Homo sapiens: one gene and its partner. The protein of the gene in region 2 interacts with the protein of the main gene of each other region in a pairwise test. Each region holds a gene or a part of one and is shown on either strand. Other genes may lie near its edges.

Region 1 (8,106 bases), on a different chromosome or scaffold from region 2:
CACAGCTTCCAACTCTGCTGGAGCGTTCGCTGTGCCTTTGTGGGGCCATGCTGATGTCCTATCAGGGTGGCAGTCTGGGGTGTGCGATCTATGGTGGAACCAGTGGAGCTTGCGGTCACGTCCCCTCTGTCTGCCTCTTTCGCTCTTACAAGGGTGCTTGGTCCAAGGTGGTATTATGGGAAATCCTGTGATAAGGCAAGACATTCTGTAAGCAATTGGGTAGTCATGCCTGGAAGGCTCTACAAGCAAGGAAGACAAACCCAAACCCAAACCCAGAATATGCATCTGGGCCTATGGAAATCAACTTGCCACCGAGAGACGGCAGCCACCATACCATGGGCTGCCCATTGGCCTCTACGGCTGGAGAGGGCAGAGGCACTGTCTAGATCTGCCTTTTTCTGTGGGTCCCTGTAGCCTCCAACCCTGTGAATGGCCATTCCATTCACAGGCCCATTGTGCAGAGACTGCCTGACCTGCCCTAGCTGAATCATCCCATTTGCTCTGTGCTCTGCTGCGGATGCTGTCTGCCGGGCAGGCATTTGTGTAAGACACATAGATGGGCCAAATACTGTTTGTGTGAGGAGCATGTGTGAGTTCTTGAGCTGAGAGGCTGTGATATCCACAGCATGGTTATGCAGCTGCTTCCTGGCCACCCTCCTCTCCATCCAGCTCTTATGTTTCTCCAGCAGGTCTCCTACCTTTGGGAATTTCTGCACCAAAAGCAGGCACATACTCTTGGTCACATATAGTCCTGAGGGCAGCCCAACTCCGCCAAGAACTCCACACTGATGCTCAGCTCCACTCTGACAGCAGCAAGCACAGGCTCGTGGGTGCCTCGAGCCAACAGGTACTAACCCAGATTAAAACAGCTGAGTGAATTCCTCATAAGCTCCAAAAGGCATCTAACCCAGATTAAAACAGCTGAGTGAATTCCTCATAAGCTCCAAGAGGCGTCTAACCCAGATTAAAACAGCTGAGTGAATTCCTCATAAGCTTCAAGAGGTGTCTTACCCAATTGCTGGGGGCTTTCTTTTCTTCCTTTTCTTTTTTTTTGACAGCGTCTCACTCCGTAGCCTAGGCTGGAGTGCAGTGGCACAATCTCGGCTCACTGCAACCTCCGCCTCCAGGGTTCAAGTGATTCTCCTGTCTCAGCCTCCCAAGTAGCTGGGACTACAGGCACGTGCAACCACGCCCGGCTAATTTTTTGTATTTTTAGTAGAGACGGCGTTTCACCATGTTAGCCAGGATGGTCTCAACCTCCTGGCCTCATGATCCACCCGCCTTGGCCTCCCAAAGTGCTGGGATTACAAGCATGAGCCACCGCGCCCGGCCAGGGGGCTTTCTCTATAGTGCGGGGAGACTTTAGGGTGACCATATAGCGTCTAAAAGGAACACTTTTGACAGTAAAAAGGGCACTCAATAATTAAGCCTTCATAACAGACACAAATCAGTCATCCCACGCAAAGTGGAACATGTGGTCACCTTAGTTATCTGCCTTCTTTGCCAGTTCAAGTGGCCAATTCCAGGATAACCAGAAAAACCCATCTAAATATCCTGTCACACCAGCTTAAACCCCATGATCCTGTCTGATGTTATTTCTCTGCATAGAACCCGAACTCCTCTGTTCCCTGCTCCATCTTCTGTGTCAAACTCCAATCTCAGCTACAACTAATTTTCTAACTCCCTGCCTGCACTAGAGCAGCCAAAACAACACAAGCAGGCCGACTGGTTCCATTTGAGACTTAAGACCACACATCCCAAGTGGGCATTCTGCCCTGCCTGGCAATCTGGCTACATATCCTTAACAATTCGCCTTACAATGTCTAAGTTAACAATCTCACCCCTTCTCAGTCCTCCCTCGTCCCCACCCCCTGCTCACAGATGATCTTGTTGGTTCCTTTGTTAACACAGAAGCAACCAGAAGAGTATTTTCTCACTTTCTCCTCACCATGTCTACCAACCCACAGCTATAGCTTCACATTCCGCTCACTCTCCTACTACACAGCTCAACTCTGGTGGCTCCTAAGAACAACCTCTGCCCTCGTGCAACAGGTCCTACCCTCTCTTACCTTTCTCAAAGACTTGCTCTGCAGTTGCTCCCTCTCTCCTGCATCAGCGGTTCCCTCTTTACATGTTTTGTTAATAGCTCCCATCTTAAAACAGACTTTTTCCTTGATACCATGCCTCTCTAGCAACTACCGCCCATCTCTGCTCCCTTTGTCACACAACTCCTCAGAGGGGTTGTCAAAGTAGCCAGATGAAAATACAGAACATCCAGTTAAATGTGAATTTCAGATAGTAACAATTTAGTATACGTATGTCCCGTGCAATATTGGGGCCGTACTTTTACTAACAAATACTAAAACTGTGTCTGGAATTGGTAAGTTCTTGGTCTCACTGACTTCAAGAATGAAGCCGCGGACCCTTGCGGTATGTGTTACAGTTCCTAAAGGCGGCGTATCTGGAGTTTGCTCCTTCTGATGTTCAGATGTGTTCGGAGTTTCTTCCTTCTGGTAGGGTCGTGATCTCGCTGGTTCAGGAGTGAAGCTAGAGACCTTCGCGGCGAGAGTTACAGCTCATAGAGGCAGTGTGGACCCAAAGTATAAACAGCAGCCAGATTTACCCCAAAGAGCAAAAAAATAAAACTTCCACAGTGTGGAAAGAAACCGGAGCAAACTACCACTGCCAGCTCGGGCAGGCTGCGTTTATTCTCTTATCTGGCCCCCACCCACATCCTGCTGATGATTGGTCCATTTTACAGAGAGCCGATTGGTCCATTTTACAGAGAGCTGATCGGTCCATTTTGACAGGGTGCTGATTGGTGCGTTTACAATCCCTGAGCTGGACACAAAAGTTCTCCACCTCCCCACGAGATTAGCTAGACACAGATTTTGGACACAAAGGTTCTCCAAGTCCCCACCAGAGTAGCTAGATACAGAGTGTCGATTGGTGCATTCACAAACCCTGAGCTAGACACAGGGTGCGGACTGGTGTGTTTACAAACCTTGAGCTAGATACAGTGTGCCGATTGGTGTATTTATAATCCCTGGGCTAGACATAAAGGTTCTCCAAGTCCCCACCAGACTCAGGAACCCAGCTGGCTTCACCCAGTGGATCCCGACCGGGGCCGCAGGTGGAGCCGCCTGCCAGTCCCGAGCCATGCGCCCACACTCCTCAGCCCTTGGGTGGTCGATGGGACTGGGGGCCGTGAAGCAGGGGGCAGCGCTCGTCGGGGAGGCTCGGGCGCACGGAAGCCCATGGCGGGGGGGGTTGGCTCAGGCACTGCAGGCTGCAGGTCCCCAGCCCTGCCCCGCGGGAAGGCAGCTAAGGCCCGGGGAGAAATTGAGCACAGCAGCTGCTGGCCCAGGTGCTAAGCCCCTCACTGCCCAGGGCCGGCGGGTTGGCTGGCCGCTCCGAGTGCCGGCCCGCTGAGCCCACGCCCACCCAGAACTCGCGCTGGCCCGCAAGTGCCGCACGCAGCCCGGGTTCCCACCAGCGCCTCTCCCTCCACACCTCCCCACAAGCTGAGGGAGCCGGCTCCGGCCTTGGCCAGCCTAGAAAGGGGCTCCCACAGTGCAGCGGTGGGCTGAAGGGCTCCTCAAGCACAGCCAGAGTGGGTGCCAAGGCCGAGGAGGTGCCCAGAGCGAGCGAGGGCTGTGAGGGCTGCCAGCACGCTGTCACCTCTCAAAACAATGTTTTAGTAGAAGTATATCCCATGCAACATTAGTTTAGTGATAAATATATCTATACTACAAATTACTTGTTGTTTATCTGAAATTAAACTTTACTGGGTATTTGTATTTTTATTGCTAAATCTGCCAACCTAGGTTGTTGAAACTTACTTTTTTCCACTTCACTTAATATTCTTTTCACAGTCCACTCTGACGAGATGTAGCTTCCCCACACTCCTTTGAAACTGCTTTTGTCAAGGATGCCAATGACTGGCATATGCCAAACTCAATTGTCTCTGGAGTCTTGGCCTCACAGTACTTCTGAACATTGGCTATCAATTCCTCCTTCCTGAAACTATTTAGCTTCCAGAATCCGCTACCCCCACTTTCCTGATTGTCCTTCCTCCCTGGCCATAGCCCCTGAACCCGAGCTTCCCCCAACCTAGAGCATCCCCTGACCCTAAGTATCCCCCCAACCCTGAGAACCCCCTGACCCCGAGTATCCCCCGACCTCGAGAACTCCCCGACCCCGAGCATCCCCCCAACCCCCAGCATCCCACGACCCCGGGCATCTCCCCCGATCCTGCGCATCCCCTGACCTGGTATGGCGCCCTGACCCAGTGCAGCCCTCAAACCCCTGCAGCCCCCTGACCCCATGCATCCTCCTGACCTAGGGCTGCCCCTGACTCAATGTTGCCCCCGGACCCCAGTGCCTCCTCCTGACCTGAGGCACGCCCCCCAACCTGGTACAGTCCCCTGATTCCAGTGCATCCTTCTGACCCAGTGCTGCCTCCTAACCTGGTGCATCCTCCTTACCCAGTGTGGCCCCCTGGGGATGCACACTCCAGTGCATCCTCCTGACCTGATGCTTCCTCTGGTCTCGGTGCAGCCCCCCTGACCTGGTGCAGCCCTCTGATTCCATGCATTCTCTTGACCTTGTGCATCCCCCTGTTCCGGAGGGGTCCTCTGACCCGATGCAGGGCCCATCGTTGTGAACTGTGGCCCACAAACGCACTATCATCCCACAGTCTCCCTGAGATGACCCGAGGGCACGGGGATGGATGGTGCACCCGGCCTGCCCCTTGAGCTTGTATCCTTCTTTCCCTCCCTCACCGCTTCCCGCCACCGCAAAGACGCCCAGCAAAAACCTCCTACTCGTGTCCATTCAGGCAGCTGGGTCCCTCGGAACCCAAGGCATTCCAGCGTCCACCGCCCACGGCCCCTGCTGACCTCCAGCACCCGCGCCGGTCTCCTCCCCTCCTCTACCCTCCCCTGAAGGCTCCGCCCATCGAGGACTCGGCGCTCGACTGCCAGGCGGATCTACACGCTCGGCGCTCGCGGCGGGCGGAAGTGAGGTGCCGGCGGCTGGCGGCCGCGGAGTCTTCGGCGAGACCTACCGGGCCCTGTCTGTGCCGGCCGTGAGCTGCGGCAGGACGGCTGGAGGTATGTGTGGGAGGCTGGAGGGCCTGGCCGAAGGCCAGCGGGACATGGACGTCAGCTGCACGGAGGTGGCCGCCTGCGGCGTCCGTCCAGGCCTCAGCGGTGAAGGGACAGCCGCGCCCACTGGCGCCGTCGGTCACCTGCGGGGCCCCGCGACCCCCCGCGGTTCCCAGCCCCGCAGCCCCCATCCCCGCCGTCAGCCGCCTGCTGGGCTCCGCGCCCACCCCCGCCAGTTCGCACCCCCGCGGTCCCCACCTGCGCCGGTGAGGGGCGTGGGCTGCAGAGGGCTGACTCCAGGCCCCGCCCGCTGGAGCTGGCCCCAGACTGCGCCGCTTCGCCCTTGCGCAGTTGCCACTCCGTGAGATTTGAGAATTTCTCCGGAAAAGTGAACGCGAGGCGGGTGTTACCTGTCTGCCTAGGCGTGCATCCCGCTCTGGCTGTCCTGAGCGCTTAAAAGGCGCCTGCCGCTGTTGTCAGCGTTTGCGTGCACGTACTTGATCCTCGCGCGGGTGTATGTACGCTGCCGTGTGACCCATTTTACGGATAGGGGAGCGGCGGCTCAGAGTGCTTGAGCAAAGAGCCTGAGGTCCTGTTGTAGCTGCCATTGAGACCTTGCGCGCCGGCTCCAGGTCCGCACACCAGCAGCCTGGAAGCCTGGTGATGCGTAACCCTGTATCCCAAGATTGTTAAGAAAACACTTTAGTAATTCCGAGAAATAGTTCTTGAAAGAACTCGTCTTTGAATGGAAGTAAGTTATTTTTAATCTGCCAAAGGTCAACATACTAATAAGTCTGAGAAATTTTAAGTCTGATGCCTTTATGAATCTGTGAGTAAACTTACAAGGAACACTTAAAAAATATTTTTTCTAAGTTAGCCACACTTTAATTAAATCTTTTTGTGTGCACTATGCAATATTGAAAAGTTACTTCTGAGCTTATGTGGATCTGTCTTCTAATGCATAATAATGTTTTGTTTATGAATGTTAGTATGTACTGGCCCATGCTTTGTGTAACTGACTCCTTTAATGACAAATCAACTGAAAGCCAGAATCTTCTCAAAGATGATTTTTTTGTGCTAAAAGTTGGCGATTCCCAGAGTAGTAATAGAAAGAGGGTGATGTGTGCTTAGTACTTACATGTTCACTTGTTTGTCTAAGTAGAAACTTAATAAATTAAAGCAGAGAAGCAGAGTTCCCCCAGTGTGACTTGGACCAACTCTTGGAAGTTTTAGAAAGTGATCTTTTTTTCTTGTCAAGTATTTAATTTCCTGTATTGAATGCCATTTTGAACTACAGTTGACCCTTGAACAACACTGGGGTTAGGGGTGCCCACGCAGTCAAAAATTTCCATGTAACTTTTGACTTTCCCAGGACTTTACTAATAGCCTACTGTTGACCAGAAGCCTTACTGATACATAAACAGTTGACTTACATGTATTTTGTATGTTATACGTATTATATACTGTATTCTTAAAGTAAGCTGAGAGAGGAAAATGTTAAAATCACAACAAATGTATTTACTCTTCTTTAAATGAAAGTGGAGAATCATGAAGGTTATTATCCCCATAGTCTGCATGAGTAGATTGTGGAGGAGGAAGAAGAGGAGGGATTTTCTCAGGAATGGCAGAGATGGAAGAGATGGAGGAAGTGAAAGGGGAGTGGGAGATGCAGGCACACTCAGTGCAACTTTTGTTGAAAAAATCCGTGTATAAGTGGATCTGTCTCATTCAAACCCATGTTGCTTAAGGGTCAACTGTATTACTTTTCTAAAAGATGGTTATTAACTTGCTAAGTTCTTGGGAGCCCATTATGTAAGAATCATATGGGAAATGAAGTTGGTACTGAAAAAATAGTCTTCTAGCAAAGAACTTTTAATATTTCTAGTGTCAAGCAGCAGCAAGATTAGGCCATACAGGAAGTGCTGGTTACAGAGGTGTCCTCTCAGTTACTTTTCCACTCATTCTCCAGTTTACGCATCTTAATCCAGCCTGGGTTCCTAGTCCAGCGTCTGCCACATAGTAGGTGCTTAAATGTTTATTGAATGGATGAATTTTAGGTCACTGTTGAGAGGATTTTGAAACTGGGAAATAACATTCATTGATCACTCTGCTAAGCGGTGTACTAGGATGTTGATTGTACTCAGATCCTGGGGAATATGTTCTTGGACCTTCTGGACTGCCTGCTGAAATCACATGGTGATAGTGTGGACTTCTAATCATATGCTTTAGAGTATGTTTATATTAGTCAAAAATTATTATTGATATGAATACACAAACTTAAAAGTAATTGTAATGAAATTATGAATCTTTTTTGTATTTTTAAAGACAGAGTCTCACCCTGTTGCCTAGGCTGAAGTACAGTGGCGAGATCTCTGCTCAGTGCAAGCTCTGCCTCCCGGGTTCACGCCATTCTGCCGCCTCAGCCTCCCAAGTAGCTGGGACTACAGGCGCCCGTCACCACGCCCGACTAACTTTTTGTATTTTTAGTAGAGACGGGGTTTCACCGTCGCGATCCTCGTGACGGTGGACCTCGTGATCCACCCACCTCGGCCTCCCAGAGTGCTGGGATTACAGGCGTGAACCCCTGCGCCGGGCCGGGAAATTATGAATCTTAAAGCGATGGGTGACACACGCATCGGCATCCTTCAATCTCAGTTTGTTTATTGATTGAAAGGGGGTCTTGTTCTGTCACCCAGGCTAGAGTGCAGTGGCACAGTCACAACACACTGCAGCCTTGAGCGCCATGATTCCAGAAATCCTTCTACCTCAGCCTCCCAAGTAGCTGGGACTATAGGTGCGTGCCACCGGGTTCGGCTCATTTTAAAAATTATTTGTGGAGGTGAGGTCTTCCTACGTTGCCCAGGCTGGTCTTGAACTCCTGAATGCAAGTGATGCGCTGGCCTCAGCTTCCCAGTGCTGGGACTATAGGTGTGACCCACTGTGCCTGGCTGATCTCAATTTGAAAATCACAGAGTCAAAAGGTATTTTTGGCTTAGGC
Region 2 (7,701 bases):
GATTTTTTTAAAATGAGCCATATTTCTGGATTTCCTGTGTGGTTTCCACAGCTGGAAAATAATTTAATAAAAATATTTTAAGTAGCACAATAATATAAGAGTGTAAGAGTTGAGAGATGACAATATAAAGAAAAGCTGACGGCGGAACACGCGCTTCCCATTGCAGATTACAACTAAACGGACTTAGGTTGTACAATATATGTATCCTATATGTATATCTATCCTATATGTATATGTCTCCTAAGATACATGTTTTTATGTACGATACATACAAATAGATGTATCTTGCCGAAGTGCGTCTAAAGCAAACCCCTTCTAATACCAACATTCTAAATACCAATGTTCTTCTAGCATCACTTCAAGTGAAAATAAAGCTTGGATAAAAATCTCTCCCTTGTCAGGTAATGAAAGCAAAGGGGAATGTTTCTGCACAAGAAAGAGAAACAGAAGACAGGATATAGGGGATTCAGATGCTGATGCTGCAGAACAAAAAGCAGACGTGTCCACTGTGTGGCTGCCAAAGTGCTATGTGCTTAGATTCTACAAGCACATGGATATGCAGTGAGAGCTAGTGAATGAGGTCAAGGCAGAAAGCCTCATCTTTAAGGCACAGCGTTAAAATTTTAGCTGTGTGGCAACCACCTTGAACTTTAATTTTAAAAAGAAAAAAGGCCTAACAATAGCAATCCCTGATAGGTGGATTTTCAAATTGTCAGCATTCATCATTGTCACTCAAGGTCACCCTTTTATTAGCTTCAGAGATTTGAATGAGAAAGTATGCTGGGATGGGATAAGAGATAAAAAAAAAAAAGAGATCCCAGAGATTTGAGTTCTGAGAGCAAATACTATTTAGAGACTACACTACAAAGATGGAACACTGTGGCTCTGTCAGTGAACAGTAAGGTGAAAAGAACAAATCTGACCAATAACTCAATGAGAGCAAAATCAAGAAGCTCCACGTATCTTTCAAGGGCACCTCCAGGGGAACCTCCTAGAAGCAGCCAGGCCCGCCCACCCTGCTCCTGAAGAGCAAGGCTGTGGAAGGTGAGAGCACACACAGAAGCTAATGACGTCCATCCCTCCAGCCCAGCCTTCACAAACCAATGGCCTCGTCCCACCATCCTTCCCAGGACCACACCAACAGTAAGCATAGTCCGCCGGGTGTGGTGGCTCACACCTGTAATCCCAGCACTTTGGGAGGCTGAGGCAGGCAGATCACTTGAGCCCAGGAATTTGAGACCACCCTGGGCAACATGGTGAAACCCCATCTCCACAAAAAACAGCCAGTGTGGTGGTGCACACCTGTAGTCCCAGCTACTTGGGAGGCTGAGGTAGGAGGATTGCTTGAGCCCAGGAGGCAGAGGTTGCAGTGAACTGAGATCACACCACTCCAGCCTGGTGTCACAGTGAGACTTTGTCTCAAAAAAGAAAAACCCAAAAGAACACATTAAGCATACTCTAATGAAGCCTCATGACAAAGTAAAAGGTTCTGTGAGTTGTCTGAAATACAAGGTGACATCCTCTCAATGTTTCTCATTATAATCATGATAATGGCTTAGACATTCATAGGAATCAGAATCTTCACCTAGTTTTCATAAATGGTTCCCTAAAACCCAGCAGATGAGATGCCTCCATTCTGCTGTTTCTCAGGTCTGTTTCTGAGAAATACACAGAATTCACGCCTACCTTGTCCACGTTGGCCCGGGTCTTCGCTGACGTCTCCACGTACTGCACGCCCCACTCTTCGGCTTTACTCCTGGCCTCCTCCACAGGCACCTGCCTCCGCTCCTCTAGGTCAGACTTGTTTCCCACGACGAGCAGTGGAATTTTATCTTCTTCAGCCTTCACACGGAGAATCTGTTCCCTAAGGTGTTACACCAAAAATACAGCAGCTAAAAAAACTAAAGAACGAACCCTGGTTTTGTGAACCCATCTAAAATAAAAGGCTTTCCTAAGGCAGAAGGAAAAAAAAAAATCACTAGATTTAGGGCATGTTCTGAGAAAGCACTCCCTAGAGGCAGTCATGAGCAAGACAAGTGTTTTCCAAGTCTGCTTCTCAGTTTGCCCACATCAGAATCCCCTGGGATGCTCATCACAAATGCAGATTTCTGGGCTCAGTCTTACAGAAGTGTCTGGATAGGAGCCCAGGATTTTACGTCACAACAGGGTCCCCAACTTATGCACACACAAAAAAAAAAACAAAAAGAAGAAAAATGGTCAATCTCTGCAATAAAAACAAGCTAAGGGAACTATCTCCATAAAATGCTTAATTCCCCTGAAAATATTTGTTTGTGACATAAAAGCTATGAAATCCAGTGTTTTCTATATGGAAGGTGGCAGCCTATTAGTGGATCACAAAACCAATCTAGTGGGTCGCAACCAGCAGTTTCTCCCCCCTGCAGTGAAATAGATTATAGAACAGAACTGACCAGATCAGAAATATCCAAGGGAATCTCAAGTAGGAAAGGTGAATATTGTATTGTTTTGAAACTTCAGTTTTGATTAGATCTGCATGTGTACACGACAAGTATGTCATCCCATCCCCAGTTTCCATGCAGACACAGTAATGTTATAGGCCACAGAATCGAGACAGATATGTTAGGCAGTAATCACATTCCAATACGTACCATTTTTCTACTACAAAGTGAAAAAAATGAAAGGAAATACGACAAGCCCTATGGAAAAGTACTTCAAAAGTGTCTTCTACAAAAATACCATTACTCGTAGCATATTAAATTTTACGTCTACTAAAAATTATCAGCTATCTGAAAGTACTAATCAAAACTAAATATTTAAAAAAATTAAATACCCCATTTCCATTATTTTGGTCCCATGAGAATATTTCTACTTTTATATGCCAATACATTCTAAAAAGAGTCCCCTTCAAAAATGTATTTTGTAGAGATCTGTATTGATTTTTATATGGTATAGGGTAACATTTCACAATAATAAAAATATTTTCTAGGCGTGGTGGCTCACATCTGTAATGCCAGCACTCTGGGAGCCTGAGGAGGGAGGAACACTTGAGCCCAGGAGTTCAAGACCAGCCTGGGCAACATAGGGAGACCTTGTATCTACAAAAAAAAAAACAAAAAAAAAAACTAAAATTTTCATGTAGTCAATTTAAGTGCCAGACATCAAATATTTTAAGACAAACTAAAAAAGATGAAAAGATGCTTGAAATTGGCTTTGTGTAGCCTTGTTATAGCCTACATTTGAACTGGGGTCAAAGAACATGATACATTTGAAGTCATGTGATCATTATAAACTATGAACAATAAAAACTGATAGCTTTCTGGCTCATTAGTCTTGCAGGGGCACACAAAATTACCTCATTGATAAACATATCGATCCAAAAATGGGAGTACCAAGTTCTGGTCTCTTATGACAGAACTTATCTTAGTTCATAAAATATTTTCCAGAAAAAGTTTCAAGGAAGACAGCATATTCACATGTCATTTTATATTGGGGCCTTTCTATTTGGAAGATAGTACACAAATGCTGTTTTAAAACTGCTAACAGACATGAAGTAAAGTGACTTGAGTTTAGCCACAGGGCTCAGATAATTGACCTGCATTCTTCTGTTCCCAACAACATGAGAAACCTACGCAGAGGTCAACTTCCCCTTCTTTCTGGTTTTAGGTATTCATCTGTCCTTTTTCTTCTAAGGATCTCTCTTTCCACCTAACAACCAAAACCCTTTTCCACATTGAGGGGAGCCCTGCTCCAACTCTGTGAGAACGCCCGAGTGCTATCTGTGCATGTGTGGTGACTGAGGAGAGGACAAGGAGCACTTGAAATACCTGTATTTCTCCATATCCTCTGCAGAGAACTCTCCTGCCCACTTCCCTTCTAAGTAAGTCACAGAACAACAGGAAATCAAAAGGCTCGGGACAGGGAAGAAAAGAAGAGAGTGTGTGCATCTGTCCTGTTTTACCCTCTATGAGGCATTAAAAACAGGACTACGCAGATGCAAACAATTATAAATACATGGGCTACATTCAAACAGAGCAGCCCTTAGGAAGGTCTGAAATGTCTAAAAATTAACAGAACTTCTCATAATGAGTCATAGTCACTTAACTAGTCACTGCACCACACGCACTCTGCTTCCAGAAAAGTAGGTCTTCGACTCTGAAGCCTGGAGCTATGAAGCATCACTGAGGCACCTCCCTATTATCTTTCACTAGCCCTGCTGGGTGACCTGTGCTCACCCGAGGCCTCCCTGGCTCAGTGATGCTTCCATCCAAGTCCTGGAAGGATAGCTAGCTTTCTCCTTTTCACCTCTGGTTGACCACCTTACTGTCAGACCAGAACTTGCTGAAGAATGAAAAAAACTGATTTGATTTTTGGGTTTTTTCTCTTCAGTTCCCTACTAAACTCTAGATCTGCTTCTTAAAAAGTCATCTAGATAGATATGTTTATAAGAAGAACAGATTTTTTAAAACTCAATTATGTAGGAGAAAGGGAAGGGCATGGGGTAAAGAGACATTTATAGAGCATAAGAATTATGCCCAAAAGGCTATTTCTTTATAACAAAATGAACTGAAGGTATTTTTTTCACTGCTATATTTTCTTTTTCTTTCTTCTCTAACACCTTCATGGAGAATAGTTGCCATATTTTAAAATAAATAACAATGGATATTCTACTCACTATGGAAGCACCATGTGTCTACACTGTGACAGGGGACAATGGAGGGTAGCCAGGTTCTTGCCCACATGAAATTCACAGTCTAATACATCCTTTCATTTCATTTCTCAACTCACAAGTGCATTTCCAGAGAAAGAAACAAAATCCTGACACTAAGTAAACTTGCCCATGGTCAGTGAGCGGCAAGGCAGGGATTCAAACCAGGTCTCCTGACTCTAAAGCCGCGTTCTCGTCCCTCCACTGTGCTGAAAGTCCTTAAGTAGCAGCAAATGGTCATTTTGACTCCCATCTTTCACTTTCCAGTCATTGTTTCATAACCTTCAACACAGACTAAACCTGCTACTTTTTTTAGTAACATTATTTAAAGGATAGATGGTTAATTTATCAATGAAAATCTCTGAGTATTTATAGGAACAAAATTATATGTTCTTGATTATATGGAATAGCTTCATTGTTTTCGGGGACAGTAAGACTCTTAAAATTATTTTATTCAGAAATCACAGATCAGGAAAGCCCAAAGAGATTATAATCATCATAGTCTATAATGTGCCAAGATTCAGAAAGCCCCAGAAGATTCTTTAGACAGAATTATTCCTGAGAACAAGCTCAGCCCTCTCCTAGTATGCTCAGCCCCAAATTCTTCATAGGCCTAAGACATATGAGAAAAGGCAAAAAGCTTCCTGGGGGCTTCTGCTATTTCATTTCAGACATACCTGAATTCGGCAGTTGCTGTAAAGGATTCATGTTCTGTGATTGAGAACACAAGAAGAAACCCTTCCCCACTCCGAAAGTAGTTATCTCGAATGGCTGCGTAGTCCTCTTGCCCAGCGGTGTCCAGAATATCTATCTGAACTTCTTCCCCATCAAGAACCACTTTCTTTCTATAACTGTCAGCTTTGGTAGGTTCATAGTCTTCTACAAACTGAGGAAATAAACATTATCGGTAATTAACAAAGTCTTAAGGGGAACAAAATCTGCCAAAAAACAAAATTCCACATATGGGCACTTCACACTATGAACAGGACACTACAGAAGCAACATTTTACGTAACACTTCTGTTCTTTATAGCTCTGTTTTGCCATTTTTTGTTTTTAAACAATACAGGCAGATATCCCAATTTACAGATGAGGAAACCAGGCACAGAGCAGAACACTTGGCAATATTATTGTCAGTATAAAATTTTAATGCAAACACCTGCAAGGGTGAGAAACTGGAATTCTTTTTTAATTATACTTTAAGTTTTAGGGTACATATGCACAATGTGCAGGTTTGTTACACATGTATACACGTGTCATGTTGGTGTGCTGCACCCATTAACTCGTCATTTAACATTAGGTATATCAAAAAACTGGAGTTCTTATTCATAACGGAAGTATAAAATTCATCTGAAAAGTAATTTGGCAAGATGTATGATATGGTCTGGTTCTGCATCCCCACCCAAATCTCATCATTTAGGTTGTAATCCGAATTATCATCCCAATGTGTTGGGGAAGTGACCTTATGGGAGACAATGAGATCATGGGGGCGGTACCCCTATGCTGTTCTTGTGATAGTGAGTTCGTTCTCACAGGACCTGATGGTTTCATAAGGGGCTTTTCCCCACTTCGCTCTGCACTTCTTCCTGGCGCCTTGTGAAGGACATGTTTGCTCCCCCTTCTGCCATGATTGTAAGTTTCCTGAGGCCTCCCCAGCCCTGTGGAAGAAAAGAGGCTATACACCTCTTTTCTTTATAAACTACCCAGTCTTGGGTATTTCTTCACAGCATCAAGAGAATGAACTAACACAGTGTACCAAGAGGCTTTCAGTGGTGTGGGTTTTTGAGAAAGGAATGAAGTAGTACCAACGCACGCTGCAACATGGAACAACTTTCAAAACATGATGCTGAGTGAAAGAAGTTAGACATAAAGGCCACATATTGTATGATTCCATCTATATGAAATGTCCAGAATAGGCAAATCCATAGAAGCAGAAAGCAGTTGCCAGAGGCCAGGGGTGGGACGGGGAAGCAATAACGGGGAATGACTACTAATACGTAGGTTGGTTTTTTTTGGAGTGATGAAAGTGATCTAAAATTAGATAATGGTGATGGTTGCACATCTGTATGAATATACAAAAAAAACCTATTAAATTGTACACTTTAGGCCGGGGCAGGCAGATCACCTGAGGTCAGGAGTTCGAGACCAGCCTGGCTAACATGGTGAAAACCCATCTCTACTAAAAATACAAAAGATTAGCCAGGTATGGTGGTGCACACCTGTAATCCCAGCTACTCAGGAGGCTGAGGCAGGAGAATCACTTGAACCTGGGAAGTGGCGCTTGCAGTGAACCAAGATCGTGCCATTGCACTCCAGCCTAGGCAACAAGAGAAAAACTACATCTCAAAAAAAAAAAATTGTACACTTTAAAAAGAGCGAATTTCATATGTGCATTACATCTTAATAAGGCTGTGATTTAAAATTTTTTTAACTTAAAAATGGAATTGAAAATGTCCAAGTGAATTAAAGGTTATTTGAGGAAGACTGTTAAAAAGAGCCTTGTATTGTCAGTTAACAGCTACTCAAAAATAAAAATATTAAGACATGTTTAGTATTAGGTTCTCTTCAACGTGTACTAATAAATTATCTCCAAATAGAGATGTGAAAACTTGCCTGTGCTTTCAAGTGTCCTTCTTTTAACTCCTTTCCAAAAAGAAAAATACACGCCAAAAAAATCCAACACACGACTGTCCCCTGAAAATCTCTGAATTCTACCATAAATTATCTCAACTGTATATTTCTGAGCTTCCAAGGATAAAGCCAGCCAGAGTTCCACTGGCTCCTTTGACACAGAAGTCAGAATGTCCTGCTGTACCTACATACCTCTGTACTCAATGAAAAGTATGCTGATTACCCCAACATTCCATTACAACCCTGATGTTTATTTACATTGCTCAGCTGGAAACAGAAAATCACAAAGTCTTTGTATCCATTAGCGTGAACCATACGTATCCCCTACTGGCCTTGCAGAGCTCTGCATGGCTCAGTTTCAGATGCCCAAGAGTCTAAGACAAACTT

Evidence for each region. Proteins that work in one complex are often made in the same cells at the same time.
Region 1: the proteins of RALB (region 2) and EXOC2 interact in a two-hybrid assay, tested with the Homo sapiens proteins (2 studies listed by BioGRID).

The regions. Positions count from the first base shown.
Region 1 is NC_000006.12:690,027-698,132, reverse strand, and holds the start of EXOC2 (exocyst complex component 2), read left to right. Parts: upstream 1-4,993; 5' UTR 4,994-5,114; exon of another isoform or gene 5,115-5,859; intron 5,860-8,106. UniProt on the Homo sapiens protein: Component of the exocyst complex involved in the docking of exocytic vesicles with fusion sites on the plasma membrane.
Region 2 is NC_000002.12:120,283,743-120,291,443, reverse strand, and holds part of RALB (ras-related protein Ral-B), read right to left. Parts: intron 5,571-7,701; coding exon 5,362-5,570; intron 1,865-5,361; coding exon 1,687-1,864; intron 1-1,686. UniProt on the Homo sapiens protein: Multifunctional GTPase involved in a variety of cellular processes including gene expression, cell migration, cell proliferation, oncogenic transformation and membrane trafficking.